3 separate regions of the Homo sapiens genome follow, and all the other regions are linked to region 1. Evidence: fine-mapped expression QTL. A gene starts in region 1. Each other region holds a variant in brackets. All regions are shown on one strand. Distances are between the middles of the regions.

Region 1 (5,227 bases):
GGGGGCTCAAATCAAAGGCTGTAAGATCCAAAAACAGGGAAAAATGAATTCTCACAGGGAGGATAAATAATGGGTTCATGACAGAAGTAGCATCTGAACTCAACTGTAAAGGATGGATAGGTACATCACAGGTAAGGAAAAATAGGAAAACATTTCTGCTGATAAGAATAGACAATAAAGCATGGAAGAGGGAAATATGCACTTTGAAGCATATTAAACATTTCTTTGCAACTAAAGTTTCATATCTATGTCTATATTGGTATTTATACCTATCTCTATTAGTTGGCTAAATTAGCACTTTTCCTTCAGGTATATAAGAGAGTGCTCATTTGCAAGATTGAGGCCAGATCTTGGTAAGCCTTTAATGCCAGGATAAAGAATTAGACTTCATTGAGTATGCCACAAATGCCATTCAGGGCTACTAGAGTTCCCCACAAGCCCAATGAATAAATAGCACCTGATTTTTCAAAAGCCAAATAAACAGCCAATAGCAGTGCAAAGTTAAATGAGTAGATAATCTCCATGTCATAAGTATATATGGAAGGCAGCTATTCCCTTTTTTCTTACCTCTCTAAAAATAAATGACAATTCAGAGAAAAGTAGTAATCTTCTATTCTAAACAAAATGAGCAGGCAGGGTCCCCCAAGTTTTAGGGCAAAGGAAGAAAGGAAGAAAAGAAGGGAGGGAGGGAGGAAGGAAGGAAGAAAAAAAGGAAGGAAGGAGGGGAGAAAGGAAAAAAGGAAGGAAGGGAGGGAGGGAGGGAAGGAGGAAAGAAAAAGAGGAAGAAGGAAGGAAGGAGAAGGGAGGGAGACAAGAAGGAAAGGAGGAAAGAAAAAGAGGAAGGAGGGAAAAAAGGAAGAGAGGGAGAGAGGGAAGAGAAAACAAGTCTCCTCTAAGCAGGGCCAGGCTTAAAATGATGTTTTTCAGTTAGTACCAAAAATATTCCCCAATCCAAAGAACGCTGGTTTGCTGCTTCCATTGTCTCAAAGGATGTATAGAATTCCACTATTTTCCATCACCAGCTGAAGTAGTTTCTAGTGTTTTCTTGGAGCCAGACTACATTCTAATTTCCTTCAGGGCAGTGGAAATCATGGAAAGATTAATCCTGTGTATATATAGCCTTGCACAGCGTAATACTGTGGATGAGGATTAATCGTACACAGTACCAGAATTCACTGAAGAGTATCTAACTTGGTTAGCATCTTCACCAAGCAGAAGTTAGCATTAGTTCCAAATCCATCTGAATCTCCATCAAAACCATCAGCAGCTGCCAAGGAAACTATGAACAAACTAAAGCAAGTCTTCACCTTTCCAAAATAAGAAACACTTCAGAGTCTGACAGTCTAATAGTTAGACTAACTTTAGTCAAGCTAAGCATCTCCAAACTCAAGAGACAGCTAGCAGGAATCTTTAAGATAACAGCCAGCAAAAACAATTTAGTATTCATTGTCCACATCATTCAAGCACCGCTGAGTCCTACCGTACACTTCCTCCAAGTCACCCTTCTGAAACCCTAGGAACAACACTTGTACTTAGCTGCAAGTTCTGTAGTTGCTCAGTTCCTACACAATTACAGCAGTAATTAATTTAGATTGGGATTATTTTCTTATAATTGAGAAGACTAATGGTCTCCAAACCAACAAGATGGCTTTGTACAGAAAAATCCACAGTAAGCTATAACAATTGAAGTTACAGTTTGAGTGGGTTGGCATATATATTTGCTCCTTTCTTTTGTTTAAGACAGAACCACTTAAGATAAGAGATTTATGTTTTGGAATTTCAGTACTATTTTTTTAAGAGGTGGTATCCTAGAGAGCTCAATCAATATTGTTATACATTGGAAACATTTATGGTGCCATAGGTGTTTACTATTCACAGATCTGGGGAAGATACCTGCCAGGGATATTTCACTACACTGAAACTCCCTGGAAATCTGTAGAGGTAGAGCTCTGCCTTTGGGCATTAGTCATTAAAAATATCTTGTCAGCTACTGTGACAAGTAAAGGCAGCTGAGAAGTACGGTCTAAAGAAGGGTAAATCTCGCCGTGTGCACAGTTACCCTTCGCATTTCTACAAGTGAAATGGGAGTAAAAATGAGCATTCAAAGCTGTCAAAGGAAAAGCAGTCCAGCAGTTCGAAGGGATATTCTGTGATGGACCAACTGTATGGTACAGTGTGTAAATGAACTTCAGGTCTATCTAGCGCCACGGGGGAGCCACGCTTTCGCACCACTGAGCTCTGGGGATGGGGAGAGTAGTGCAGGTTGGGGCCCCGTTTAGGAAACTACGAAGGGCTCTGAGAGAGCGAATTGTTCAGCAGTTTCCGTGACAGAACAATGATCTATTTAAGAAGTAATGGGGCAAGCAAAGAAAGCAGAGCTCGGTCATCCGGAAAAAGAAAGAGGAGCCGGAAAGAAAAGTATCAAGGAATCTACTGTGAGAGAGCGAGCAAAAAGCAAAAAGCGATCACAAATCCAGAGCAAGTAAGAGCTCAGGGATGCCGGGCCCGGGGGTCTAGCCTTTCTGAAGGGAGAGGGCTCCCCAGGCACGGGGGCAGCGCGAGGCAGCGCCCGCATTCCGTCTGCTGCCTTATCTTCGCATTCTCCCTACCACCCCCACCTTCCCCCCGGGACTGGAATAACCTTCTTCGTGCTCTCCGGTGGCTGAGAAAGCAGCTTTCGCTCTTCTGTGGTAGCGTGGAGGTGAGGTACATCTACCTCCACCCTCCCGGCACCAGCTCACGGTCTGTTGGGGGGGTCCTCCTAACGTGTGAGGCTAGGGTGTGTGAATGAAAAAGAGGGAGGCGGAGGCCTCCTGGAGACCTTCGACCTCTCAAGACCAGGCAGGGGCGCCCTTCCGCAAGCTCCCAGCTCTAGCCGGTGCCTCTGGCCCCGCGCGCATTAGGTCGCTGCCAGAAAATTACCCGGGCAACGACACCGCCGGAGTCCCGGATGTGGTTGCTAGGGCAGCAGAGGGAGGGGCGTAGCCCGCCTCCCGGAGAAGGGCGGAGGGATCCTCGTGGGAGGTGCGCTGACACCACCGAGACGTGGCCGGGCAAGGCCGGATTGAGGGAGAGAGAGGCCGTCCAGGGCCAGGGACAACGCTACTTCCGGTCTCCTCACTTCCGGCTTCGCTGCTCTTGGTTCTGGTTCTGGAGGCTGGGTTGAGAGGTCGCCGGTCCGACTGTCCTCGGCGGTTGGTCAGTGTGAATTTGTGACAGCTGCAGTTGCTCCCCGCCCCCGAGCAGCCGAGGTGCGTGGGGGAAGGGGAAGAAGGAAAAGGTCCGGGTCGCGTTTCCGCTCAGTTTTTGCCAGGGTTGAGGCGATTCCAGAGAGCGGCGGAAAGGATAAGCCTCGACTTAGAAGCTACCGAGTTACCCTAAGAAAGGTGAGGGCGGAGCTGGCTCGCCTGGGAAAAGGCGGGGGAAAGATGGTTTGAGGTGGCTGGTGGGGCGGGCACGTTGCCTACGGGTTCACCGTTCCGAACTTTCACAGGGCACGCCTCTCCTTAGTCTGTGCCGTATCTGCCCAAGTGTTATGCCTTTGGTTTCTTCTGTCCTTCATTCCTTCTGTCCCTCTGAGTGTGCCCCCGAAACAGTCGAGTGAAGGTGTAGGACCGGCCCTTGCAGGGAGGCACTCTCTTGGCTTTGCATACATTGGGTGGGAAAAGGAGTTGCAGGATCCAGAATCCGGACCTTTCTTGACAAAGTGTCGGAGTGGGCCACCTTCAGGCTTGCTGTCCAACCCTCATTTCTCCCCTCTTCTCCCTGCATCCCCAGCTTCCTCTCTCCCGCAGTGGGAGGAAGGGAGATAGTGACAGTCCCTCTGAGAGATTCATCTGGCAGTGGTGCAGAGAGGAGTCTTGCCTGTGAAATGTCCCAAGCCTGACTAAGGAATGCTGGAGTTTTGGAAAGGGAGTTGTTCGATTGTCTTCTGCTCCGTTCCTGTTTGCCAAGTTACTACTGTTTACGTGTCTAGGAAAAGGAAATAATTTTTTAAAAACAGTTTTTAGATGCTAGACGTTTTTCCCTTTTACTTTATTTTGTTATTACTTCCTTTGTTTTGTTCTTACCTTCCTCTTGAGCCCTTTGATTTCAAAAAGTTTACACTTTATACTTCCTGCAGATCCTTTGGCCACTCTTAGGATTTCTGTCCCCCGCCCCTACCCTGTTTTCTCCTAAAGTATAAAATTCATCTAACTACATTATTATTTGATAAGGAAAAGCCGGAAGAGATCCAGAACTTCGCATAAACTTTTGCTTTCATACTTTCACCTGTAAGGGTGTGTTCATGTTTGCCATTTAATTAACTTAATTGGCATAGAAATGTGCACCAGAAATGGTTACCTTAAGTCAGCCGTCTGTTAAGGCTTCAGGAATTGGCCTTTTCTTTTTTCTTTTTTTTTTTTTTTTTTTGAGACAGAGTCTCACTCTGTCGCCCAGGCTGGAGTGCATTGGCACGATCTCGGCTCACCGCAACGTCCACCTCCCAGGCTCAAGCTTTTCTCCTGTCTCAGCCTTCTGAGTAGCTGGGTTTACAGGTAGGCGCCACTACCGCCTAGCTAATTTTTGTATTTTTAGTAGAGACGGGGTTTCACCGTGTTGGCCAGGCTGGTCTCAAACTCCTGACCTCAAATGATCCTCCCTCCTCGGCCTCCCAAAGTGTTGGGATTACAGGCGTGAGCCACCGCGCCCGGCCGAATTGGCCATTTCATTGCTGTTCTCTCAGAGCGGCTACAGATTACTATATTTTACTGCTGCCTTAATTCTGCTTTTCTTTCGTTTGTCCTGTGGTGTTTTTTGTTTTGTTTTCCTTGCTTAGCATGACCCACGTCTTCTCCCAACTACCAAGTCTAACACACTTTTATCTGAGAAAAGAGAAAAGATTTCTAATGTATTTTGTGGATTAAATCCCTGCCTCAGTTACTTTAGTTTCTTTCCAAATTGATAAACTGGTTTTCCTTGGATTATGATTTGCCTTAATCCTGGATGATGACTTGGGGTTCATGGCCTAAGGGTCAACAACTTTCAGGGGTCTTCCTCATTCCCACCCCTGAAATTATATGCAGTTTTGTTTGAGTGAATTTTTTTCCCCCCTGGGGAAAGTGTCCATTGTTTTTATCAAATTCTCAAAGGAGATATACAGCCTCTTGATAGATTAAAACCACCACTTAGGCAGTGTCTTGTTGAAGTTAGTGAAAACAGGTTTTGTGTGTGTATGTGTGTGTGT
Region 2 (5,227 bases), 170 kb after region 1:
AAGAAGAAGAAGAAGAAGAAGAAGAAGAAGAAGAAGAAGAAGCAGAAGAAGAAAATGGTTATGGACCAGGCATGGTGGCTGAAACCTGTAATCTCAGCACTTCTGGAGGCCAAGACAGGAGGATAGCTTGCGGCCAGGAATTCAACACTAGCCTGGGCAACATAGTGAGACCTCATCTCCACAAAAAAATGTCTTAAAAATTATCCAGGTGTGACAGCATGCATCCCTAGTCCTAGCTACTCAGGAGGCTGATGCAGAAGGATTGCTTGAGCCCAGGAGTTTGAGGCTGCAGTGAGCTATGATCACACCACCGCACTCCAGCCTAGGTGACAGAGCAAGACCCTGTCTCTAAAAAAATAAATAAATAAAAAGTTATGATGGCAATTGTTATTTGTATTTTACCACAACTGAAAAAAAGTTTCTTCTTCCTTCAAAGGATATGGGAGGCAGATTTTGTAGTGGATTGATGAAGTGAATTGAAACTACAAAAGTTGTAGTAGAATAAACTAGAAGAGCTGATTTGGAGGTTTTAGCAAGAGTGATGGTGTAGCCACATGTCTCACTGAGTGGCATAGTGCTGCTGACTGTTTCAGTGGGTATCAGCACAACCCTGGCCCCCTGGCAGTTGCGGGGAAACTGTGAGTAGAGCCCAGGCCCCCTTCGCATCCTAGCAGGAAATCCTTGAAATGTTGAAATGAGTTGAGTGCGTTAATTACCTCATTACCTTATATTTCAAGCTGCCTTGTTTGCCACTCTTTGGTAGGAATTTTGGGGGAAGAGGTAACGAACTCTGCAGTATGCTGACTGTACCCGTGGCACCGACTTCTGTGGCGGTCCTGCCTGCATGTCCTGGTGTGACCAGAGGAGTAATTACCGGTTGATCGGAGCTGGTGGGAGGGAGGGGATGATGCAGCTCACTCATTGGCTGGGTTTGTTTATCCCTCTTCTTTGGGCAGTTTCTTGCCTCTGATTTGTCAGCTTGTGCAGCCAGTGAGTCCCACTGGGATCCCATGTGCAGATTCCACTGCTCTGAATGATTCCAAAACACCACCCAACCCGACCCGACTTTGTTTCTGAATGGCCCAGCTTTGAGAGAGCAAGCATTTGGGAAGTGAGATAAGCTAATTTACATGTGCAGTGATAACCCTCTTTAAAGGACTTCAACAGTCACCCTTATAACATTGCTTTGGAAGGATCGAATGCGATAAAGTGGAGAAAGAGACTCCTCAGACACCAGGCAAATCTGAGGATGCCGGGAGCGAGTGGGACTGTCCCTGAATGATATCAGTTGTCTCATTTTAATGTTGTTTGGGTGAAGTGCTGGGCTCTGTTTTTCCTGTAAGGTGCTCAGTCACAGCCAGCTCGGGTTTTCCCTTAGGAATATCACCCAATTCTCTTTGTTTCTGAAACACAGCTTGAGCTGTAGAGACGCCTGCTTCTACAGCTGGGCTGCCCCTGTGTTGGGGCACCGTGGGCTGCTCCTGTAGGGCCAGGGCTCAGGCCCCTGGAGGCTCTCTTGCCTGGGGAGAACATGATTCCCATCTGTCATCTCTCAGATACAGCTCTGGGGTCACCAGGGGACTTGGCCAGGCACACGTATAGCTTCTTACACATCTGTCCCCATTCCTGGAGAAAACTCACAATGCAAGCACCATGCTGGTAGGGAACGTTTGCTACGTCTCTATAGGAAGCTCAGTAATGTGAAAACCCACAGAAACTAGAGTGAAAAGGAGTCAGAGAGAACCAGGCTAACCTATCAGTTCAACACTGCTCTGGGAAAGTTATAAAATGATGTCTATGAGGCTTAGTTTCCTTACCTGTCCAGTAGAGATCATAAGAGTAATTTTCTCCTTCACTTTTCCTGCAGCAATGTCTCCGGATCTAGGCTGAGTGAAGAGAGTCCCAGAGGGTTGAGGGGTGAACAGGATGAGCGTGGGGCTTGGTTCACGTGGGGTGTGGGAGAGCACTGCAGTCAAGGGTTGAATGTAGCAGAAGGTGGCACTTTCATGAAAGGAATACGAAACAAGTCATTTATCCATCCTAGGTGAATGCAGAGGAAGTTCTTTGAACGTGCTGTGTAACTATATCAACATACAGATTCTTATGCATGGCCTTTTAATTTATTAATTCTAATGAACCCAGTTTTCTGTCTTAATAAATCGAGATTCCTTTTTTGGTATGACCTTTTAAAGGGTGTTGAGTTTGACAGGTTTTATTCTCACCCTTTCTTTCTCTCCTCTCCTCCCTTTACACTGAACTTGAACTGCAGTCCCCAGATAGGATTCCAATAAGGAGGCCGCCCTTTCAGCTTGGGAGTTTTTACCTTATGGCTGGCAGGTGATTGTGTTAACATGAAATAAACCCCTAGGTTAGTAAATAATGTGACTGTTAAAGATTAGTCTTCAAAAGAAGGCAACCATACTCTTGTAAAAATTTAACCTTATAGCCAGGAAGTGACATTAACGTTGGTT[AAC/A]AGTCTCGCTGCTGGTTATCAACTCAGAAGCAGACCCAGAGATCAGGAATTTAGCCTGAAACCTGATTCTCTTTTGTTCACAGTGAATCACATACATTTGGAAAGGAAGAGCATTATAACAACATTCCTATTTTAGCTAGTCTCCCGTTACCAAAAAACAAACGGGAAAAAACTGCAGCAGTTTTCAGGTTATCTTTCCTCCACGCAGCCGGGATGTTTACATCCAGAGACAGAAATGGCTTCTGTATTTAACAGCCAAAAAAAGTTCTCATTTCTAGTCTGATAAAGCCACCTGAAATTTTGATCAGTGAAAACCTGCTACAGCTCAATCTGGGTTTTGACAGAATAGCTATCCCATATTTCATTAAATAAAAAGATGCCATGTATTGTAAGGCACATCCTGATTCCAGAGATCAGAAAAATGCAAAAACAAACAAACAAACAAACAAAAAAGTATCTTATCCTTGGTGAAATGTATACAGCACAAGATTTTTCGTTTTAAAATTGTGAGTAAACAAAATGTAGGACACTACCTTACACCCTCCTAAAAGGTCTGTTGGACATATGTAAACTTTTTGAATGAAATGAAATTTTTCTTTTAGAAAAAAATTTAATGATGTTTCCGAAATATGACTTTATTGGTTCTTTTACGTCCATAAATCAGGGTTGGGACTCAATCTGCCTTATCTTCAGAGTTGTTTTTTATTTTCTCAGTTCAAATCTCACGCGATTCTTGTTAGGCCAAGACATCCATTTCTAAATTGGGGCTTTTAAATGTGGGTGATATTATTCTAAGAGGAAATTGCTAAATTTAAAACATTTAAAGTGTATATTTACAGTCCTCCCTCCATGACTGCAGATTTTGCATCCTCAAATTCAACCAACCATGAATCAAAAATATTCAGAAAAAAGTAGAAAATAACAATACAACAATAAAAAATAATACAAATTTAAAAATACAGTATAACAACCCCTTACATAACATAATTTACATTGTCTTAGGTATTACAAGTAATCTAGAGATGGTTTAAAGTATGCAGGAGGTTGTGCATAGATTATATGCAAAATACTATGCAATTTTATGTAAGACTTGAGCATCGTTAGATTTTGGTATCCCCAGGGGTCCTGGAACTAATCCCCTGTGATACTAAAGGATGACTGACTTTACAGATACTTCTCAACTTACGATGGGGCTGCATCCTAAAAACCCATTTGTTAAGTCAAAAATATTCTAAGTTGAAAATGTGGCTGGGCACAGTGACTCATGGCTGTAATCCCAGCACTTTGAGAGGCCGAGGCAGGTGGATCACTTGAGGTCAACAGTTCAAGACCAGCCTGGACAACATGGTGAAACTCCATCTCTACAAAACATACAAAATTTAGCCGGGCATAGTGGTGCATGCCTGTAGTCCCAGCTGCCCTCGGGAGGCTGAGGCAGGAGAATCACTTGAACCCGGTAGGCAGAGGTTGCAGTGAGCCAAGATGGTGCCACTGCACTCCAGCCTGGGCAACGGAGCGAGACTCTGTCTCCAAAAAAAAAAAGAAAGAAAATGCATTTCATATCCCACTAAACTCATAGTAAACTTGAAAAATCATAAGTTGAACCATCATAGGTCGGGACCATCTGTATATTAAAAGTTATATAATATTAAAGTAGGTATGTGTTATTATTACATTTAAGGAAATATAATACCACTGTAGAAAGTTTGGGGAGATGATAATCTTTTAATATTTGTAAAACTATGTTAGGAATATCTGTTAATCACCAGATTTATACATTGGGAATTATTCTCTGATAAATTAGTGTTGCATTTTGATCGGTTTTAATTATCTTCTTTCTCCATCTCTTTTTATTTGAATTTAGTAATCCTATGTGTCCTTATTTTTTTTTCCAGATTACTATTTTGGATGCAAAACGGAGCATGAACATTGGGATATTTCTTAAGCAATTTAAGAAGTAAGATTTTGCACACATTTGAAACTTTAGTCATATCCCTGCTGTCAGCATCAAAGTCTGTGGGTGTGACTGAGCTGGAATTCAAATTCCTCACACCTTCAAATCCTTCTTAGACGCATGGCTTGATGAGCCTGCAAGTGACTGTCACTTTCTGCTGTTTTTCTTCAGGGAAACATAACATAGTGGCTTGAAGTATATGGAGAATTGCCCCAGGGCATCCATTCAAGCCTGTCCCATCAGGGACACCTTCAGAGTCACCTTTAGTGTTGCCCCTTCAGTGGAGGTTGGACTGATGAGTCAAATAGCGGTCAGAGTTTTGTGTTCTGAAGTATAAGGAGAAGGTTGTGCAGGGGTTTCAGTGAGACCAAAGAGGATTATTTTTCTCACAACAAAAGAGACTCCCAGTGGTTGTTGCTGCTTTCAGCCTTTTTGGGATGCCCAAGGATGGTGCTCTGGGTGAAGGGCCCTTGAGTGGAGTGTTGGGTTCCCTGTTTTGAGGCAGTGGGGCTGTTATGAGCACTCACACAAAACTGCCAGCCAGTCTGGGAAGGAGGTGGGTGGGAAGGAGGGTGGAGGAGATTTAATTTCCACTGGCTTGCACCTCTGTTGGCACTCCAGCAAACGTGAAATGGAATGTGATTCATTGTCTTTTCAAGGTCTCCTCGGTCCATTGTAGAAGATATTCATCAAGGAAAAAGTGAGCATTATGGATCAGAGACCTTGCGAGAATTTCTTAAGTTTTTGCCAGAGTCAGAAGAGGTAAGAAATTCAGCGCATGAGTTGTAGATGTTAGGAGT
Region 3 (5,227 bases), 100 kb after region 1:
GCTACTCGGGAGGCTGAGGCAGAAGAATCGCTTGAACCCGGGAGGTGGAGATTGTGGTGAGCTGAGGCTGCACCATTGCACTCCAGCCTGGGCAACAGGAGCAAAACTCCATCTCAAACAAAACAAAACAAAACAAAAAATTGTAGTACTTATTTACTACTTTTTAAGAATATTTCTGATAACATTTAATGATGAGGTATATATTAATGCCCCAGTTATTCTTAAAATGTATTATCGAATGAAGTTGAGAGTAAAACATTAATACTAGGAAACTTATTTCCATGTGCTTTGAAATTAGATACTTTTTAAAAATTACAGGTTTCTAGGCTGAGCACAACGGCTCACGCCTGTAATCCCAGCACTTTGGGAGGCCAAGGCAGGTTGATCAGTTGAGCCCAGGAGTTTGAGACCAGCCTAGCCAACATGGCAAAACCCCATCTCTACTAAAAATACAAAAAATTAGCTGGGCTTGGTGGCGCACGCCTGTAATCTCAGCTACTTAGGAGGCCGAGACATGAGAATCACTTGAACCTGGGAGGTGGAGGTTGCAGTGAGCCGAGATTGGACCACTGCACTTCATCCAGCCTGGGCAATAGAGAGAGACTCCATCTCAGACAAAAAAAAAAAAAAATTATAGGTTTCTGTATTATTATTTCTGGGGCAGAATACAATAACATAACATCATATAATACCACACTGTGTGAGTAAAAGTAACTTAGTAGTTTCTCTCTCTTCCTCTTCCCCCCCGCTTTCATTCCTTCCTTCCTGTTTCTTCTTTCTTTATTCCTCATTCATACACACATATATATATACAAGTCATTTAAGGGGGAAGATAGAAGTAAAAGAGCATTTGAAAGCAGTAGGAGAGTAGTATTTTGGTGTTCTTATTATTCCTATATTAACAGTCTATATTAGTCTTAATGCCAAATATCTCTGTTTTAGATAATCTACCCAAATGTACTAAACTTGCAAAATAATTATGTGAGAGAGTTCTTATGGCAGTATATAAGTTTGCTAGATATGTCTTAAAACTTCCTTTGATTAGTAATAATTATTAGACACATCTGGTGAATTTACTTTCTGAGTCCTGATCAAGTAAGGGAGCTGACAATTTTCAGTTTGTTACGCTAGCTTGTTTGAATCCAAAAAATGGTGTATGCCATATGCTCTAGCATTTATATTTTGTTTTGTTTTTTCTTTCTAAACAAAATGCATCTTCCACTTTTAGTGTACTCGACAGATTATCTCTGAGAAGCTAGGCCGTGGCTCAAGAACTGTGGACCTTGAACTTGAAGCTCAGATTGATATATTAAGGGATAACAAGAAAAAATATGAAAATATTTTAAAACTGGCTCAAACATTGTCGACCCAGCTTTTCCAGATGGTACATACCCAAAGGCAACTTGGAGATGCATTTGCTGACCTGAGTTTGAAGTCACTAGAACTTCATGTAAGATTATTCTAAATAACTATTAGGGATGGGAGAAAATGATAATAGAAGTATTCTAAGAGGTAATTTGTTATTGTGATTTGCTGAACTCTTAATGAAGATGGAATTCTGAGATTCTCTTTTAAGATATTTCATATCACTTTAAGAAGGCCCTCTTAAAGTGATATGACTTCTGTTAACTTTACTTTTTATGAATTATCATATGTATATAAATCTTTCATATTTTTCTTCCTGTTTGTTAATATTTTATTTTGCCTTTTACTCCTTAATCAATATCAAGGGTTACTGTTGTAATATGTTCTGTTAACTTTTTCTAAAAGTTGTAAAAATGTTGTTTTCTGTATTATTCTATTTCCAGTAACATTTATGTAGACTTCAGTGAAGTGTGTAACTTAGCTTGTGGAAATTTGGTGCCAAAAATCTTAAGCTGTCCTGCTTTTCATTTTAGTTTTTACATGCATTGATTGGTAATCTTTTTATGTGGTCCTTTATCTGCCAATATTTGCAACAAATCAAGGTCTATAATATTTTGAAGACTGAGTACAGAGTGGAGTTACATGGACATCTCTTAAATGGAAAATGGTTTTAGCATAATAAGGATAATTTTACTTTCCTGCTATTTTCTGAATTATTGAATACTTTGTCACCTAAGAAACGTAATTACAGCTATTGCAATAGCATTAAATTTGTATCTTCTAATATTTTAGTTAATTTAATATTACATTATTTGTTTCAACTGAAATTGAAAAGTGTTTTGTAACAAACTGGAGAATTATCAAATTAAATGATACATCTTAGAATATGTGATCGGTTTTTTATTTGGTTAGGTGCATCCTGATTAATCTGTTAATTAGTAAAACTTGCACTGGAAAGCTTTCACTGCTGAATATACAGAGCTAGAGTTAGTTCTTGCCATATCTGAAGGAGTCATGTGTAATGTTTACTGCACCAAGATGCAGTTTATTCAAAAAGAATGAACTAAAGCTGGTGTTGAGTGATCCTTCCTCAGTTGTGTGCCTAAATAGAGCTGAGCTTGGGAGTCAGCTAGTCACCAAGTTTACAAAGAAATATGTATTGTTAATATTTATACTTTGAGGAGAATCAGTCAAAACACAAAAAAAATGCACTTTGTTTTATGTCTGAAAGTTTTAACCAATTATTACCTAATTTGGCTGTGAAAGTTATAGTTT[C/T]TCTGATTAATAATCTGCTCTATTTTTCTTTCCAACAGCTGTGCTTATAGTATAATAGAAACAAAATGTAGAAATGAAAATATTGTTTCTACTACAAAGTAACTTAAAAAAATTATTTAGCTTTTAGGTATGTATCTGAGCTGATGACAATTTTGGTTTATTAGACTTTTTCAGTAATTATATGGCTAGCTGTGATTTCGATTCTTAAAGACGGAAAGGAAAAGTAAAACTGCTACAGCTAGATCTCTATCTAAATCACATATTTTCCCATTAGTGACGTGCTTGAGATTTTTAAGTCACTTTTACTGATTTATTACTGAATAAATTAAGGTGACTTCTTTGTTTTAGGAAGAATTTGGCTATAATGCCGATACCCAGAAACTGCTGGCTAAAAATGGAGAGACTCTTCTTGGGGCCATTAATTTTTTCATTGCTAGTGTGAACACTTTGGTGAATAAAACCATTGAAGATACATTAATGACTGTGAAACAGTATGAAAGTGCCAGGTAAGGTATACATTTTCACTGTGTTGTCTGTTTTACAGATGGCATATAATTCAGTTAATTTTTTGGTTACAAACAACAGAAACCAACTCTGGCCAATATGGGCAGGAAAAAAATGTACTGGAAAGTTATAGGATGCCTCTACAGACCTGGCAGAAAGGGAGAGAACAAGATTCTGGAAACAACCAAGAACCAAAGCCAAGTTAAGCCTCAGAAGAATCTAATTAGAACCCCTATGCTGGGTGCCTCTAGTACTTGATGCTGCCACAGCTACCATAAATAATTTCCTAAATACCCATGAATACTTGCTTCATTGCCTTGAGATTATCTAATTGAGCCTTGGTCATGTGCCCAAACCCTGCCTTCTAGTGAGTAGGGAAATGGAGGATCTCCCAGCTCTGGCTTCTTTAGAAGAGGACAGGGCCCTATGTTCTACCAGGTAGGTATTACATGGTCCTCTATACTCTCGCCTAAATTTACCTTTCATCCTTATTACCACTGCTTCCACAATAGCCAGACCCATACTTTCAGTTTCTATTGAATAAATAAGCTCATTTTGCCTCCATGATTTTTGTTTGTTAGGATATCAGTCATCTTCCATTTATCCAGATTATAACAAGCCTTCAAACCCTTTCAAATTTTACCTTTTATATAAATTAAATATTTGACTTGTATTTTGATAACTGTTCATAATGCAGTGTTTTTATACATCCTATTTTAATGGGTTTTTGTATATCCATATTCATATATATATGTATATATACAGTTTCCCTGTCTCATAACTATCCTGTTAAATGGTGAACAAAATATATATTAATAAATATATTAATAAATATTTTGAAGGGTCTAAAATATGGCAGACCTATAATAGCCTTTTTCACCTTTTGATTCCAGGCCCAATTTTTTCCCCATATGCCCTACCCCTTTTATTTAAGTATCATTCTAGTCCCTTTTGAGGTTTTTTTCTTTTGAGCACTCAAAATTCTTATTTTCCATTATACTTTTTATGCATAGTTGAAGATAAACTTTACCTTTTAGAAGGATAACTTTACTCTTTGGCCTCTTATCCTAGTTTAATGGTATGAGAAATACCTGTAAAAAACTCCAAACTCATCTAGTATTTTTGCAATTGAGTGCTTATTAAATATATATTTCCTTACACTTCAATTAAGTAAAAGCCCAAATCATTTTGAAAAGTTAATTTTTGATGTTTTCACAGGAAGAGATGCTTCTGTCCCATACCATGTTTATTTTGTCATTTTCCATTTAGTATTAAAGTATGAGATTCTTATTGACTTGAAAATGAAGGTCAAACAGCTGTGGTTGTATGGAGGGGTAAGGGTGAGGATAGCTGTTAGTAAGATAGCCTTCCGTGGAAATCTCTTCAATAACATTCTCAGTAATTGGTGTTTCAGTCTCAGTGTAAATCCTTTCATGGAAATTATATTTTTCAAAGGGTTCATTATGTATATGAATTTTAAAATTCATTTATATAAGTTTTACTTGATCCTTTTCTAAATTTTTCTGTTCCTTGTTCATAATGTCCTAATTTGTTCATAATGGTACTGTTTCTTTTATCTCTAATCATTTTAAATATTCATATTTTCTAGTCCTTCTGATTGTTTTAACATGTATGGGTTTTAAAGATGGATATTGTTTTCTTCCAAAAATACCCCCACCACCTCCTAGTTGAGAACTTTGTGAATCTAGTTTCTCTACTTTGCAATTGTCTACCTATCCTGAAATATATTTTCGTTAATAATAATCTCTTTCCCTTCAGCTTTTATTTCTAAACAGTTTATAATTAATTTGTAGAGGAGAAAACACTCTAGAGGTTAAATGGTTTGCTCACTTGTAGTCAATTTCAAAGGCAAAATAAGAACCCATTGGTTCTCTATGGTTCACATTTTATCAGTAGGCCTTATACCTGAGTATTAGTGCCCTAAGTATAATGTGGTATAAGATCTCAGATTATAAAATACAGTATATAGGTTCATTTGGAACTTTTGAACAAAATTATAAATCAAGTTACATGTACTTGGTGGCTGGTTTCTTAAGGGAAACCCTTACACAGCCTCTGTGTG

Evidence for each region. PIP is the estimated chance that this variant, and not a neighbour inherited with it, causes the effect.
Region 2: its variant is the best candidate, but not a certain one, in a credible set for the expression of ARFIP1 in subcutaneous fat (GTEx, PIP 0.60).
Region 3: its variant is the best candidate, but not a certain one, in a credible set for the expression of ARFIP1 in whole blood (INTERVAL, PIP 0.72).

Annotation. Positions count from the first base shown.
Region 1 is chr4:152,776,841-152,782,067 of GRCh38, forward strand. It overlaps ARFIP1 (ARF interacting protein 1), which reads left to right and starts at 3,114. Exons shown (of 9, transcript NM_001025595.3): 1 at 3,114-3,386. It overlaps TIGD4 (tigger transposable element derived 4), which reads right to left and starts at 2,890. Exons shown (of 2, transcript NM_145720.4): 1 at 2,642-2,890. RefSeq lists enhancers at 2,332-2,541, 2,992-3,151, 3,342-3,391.
Region 2 is chr4:152,949,131-152,954,357 of GRCh38, forward strand. It overlaps FHDC1 (FH2 domain containing 1), which reads left to right. Exons shown (of 12, transcript NM_001371116.1): 3 at 4,369-4,430; 4 at 5,087-5,189. Among named protein-coding and RNA genes, the nearest start is that of FHDC1, 15 kb to the left of the region's middle. RefSeq lists an enhancer at 787-1,081. The variant AAC/A (reference allele first, on the strand shown) is at 2,472.
Region 3 is chr4:152,879,735-152,884,961 of GRCh38, forward strand. It overlaps ARFIP1 (ARF interacting protein 1), which reads left to right. Exons shown (of 9, transcript NM_001025595.3): 6 at 1,229-1,450; 7 at 2,989-3,146. Among named protein-coding and RNA genes, the nearest start is that of FHDC1, 54 kb to the right of the region's middle. The variant C/T (reference allele first, on the strand shown) is at 2,641.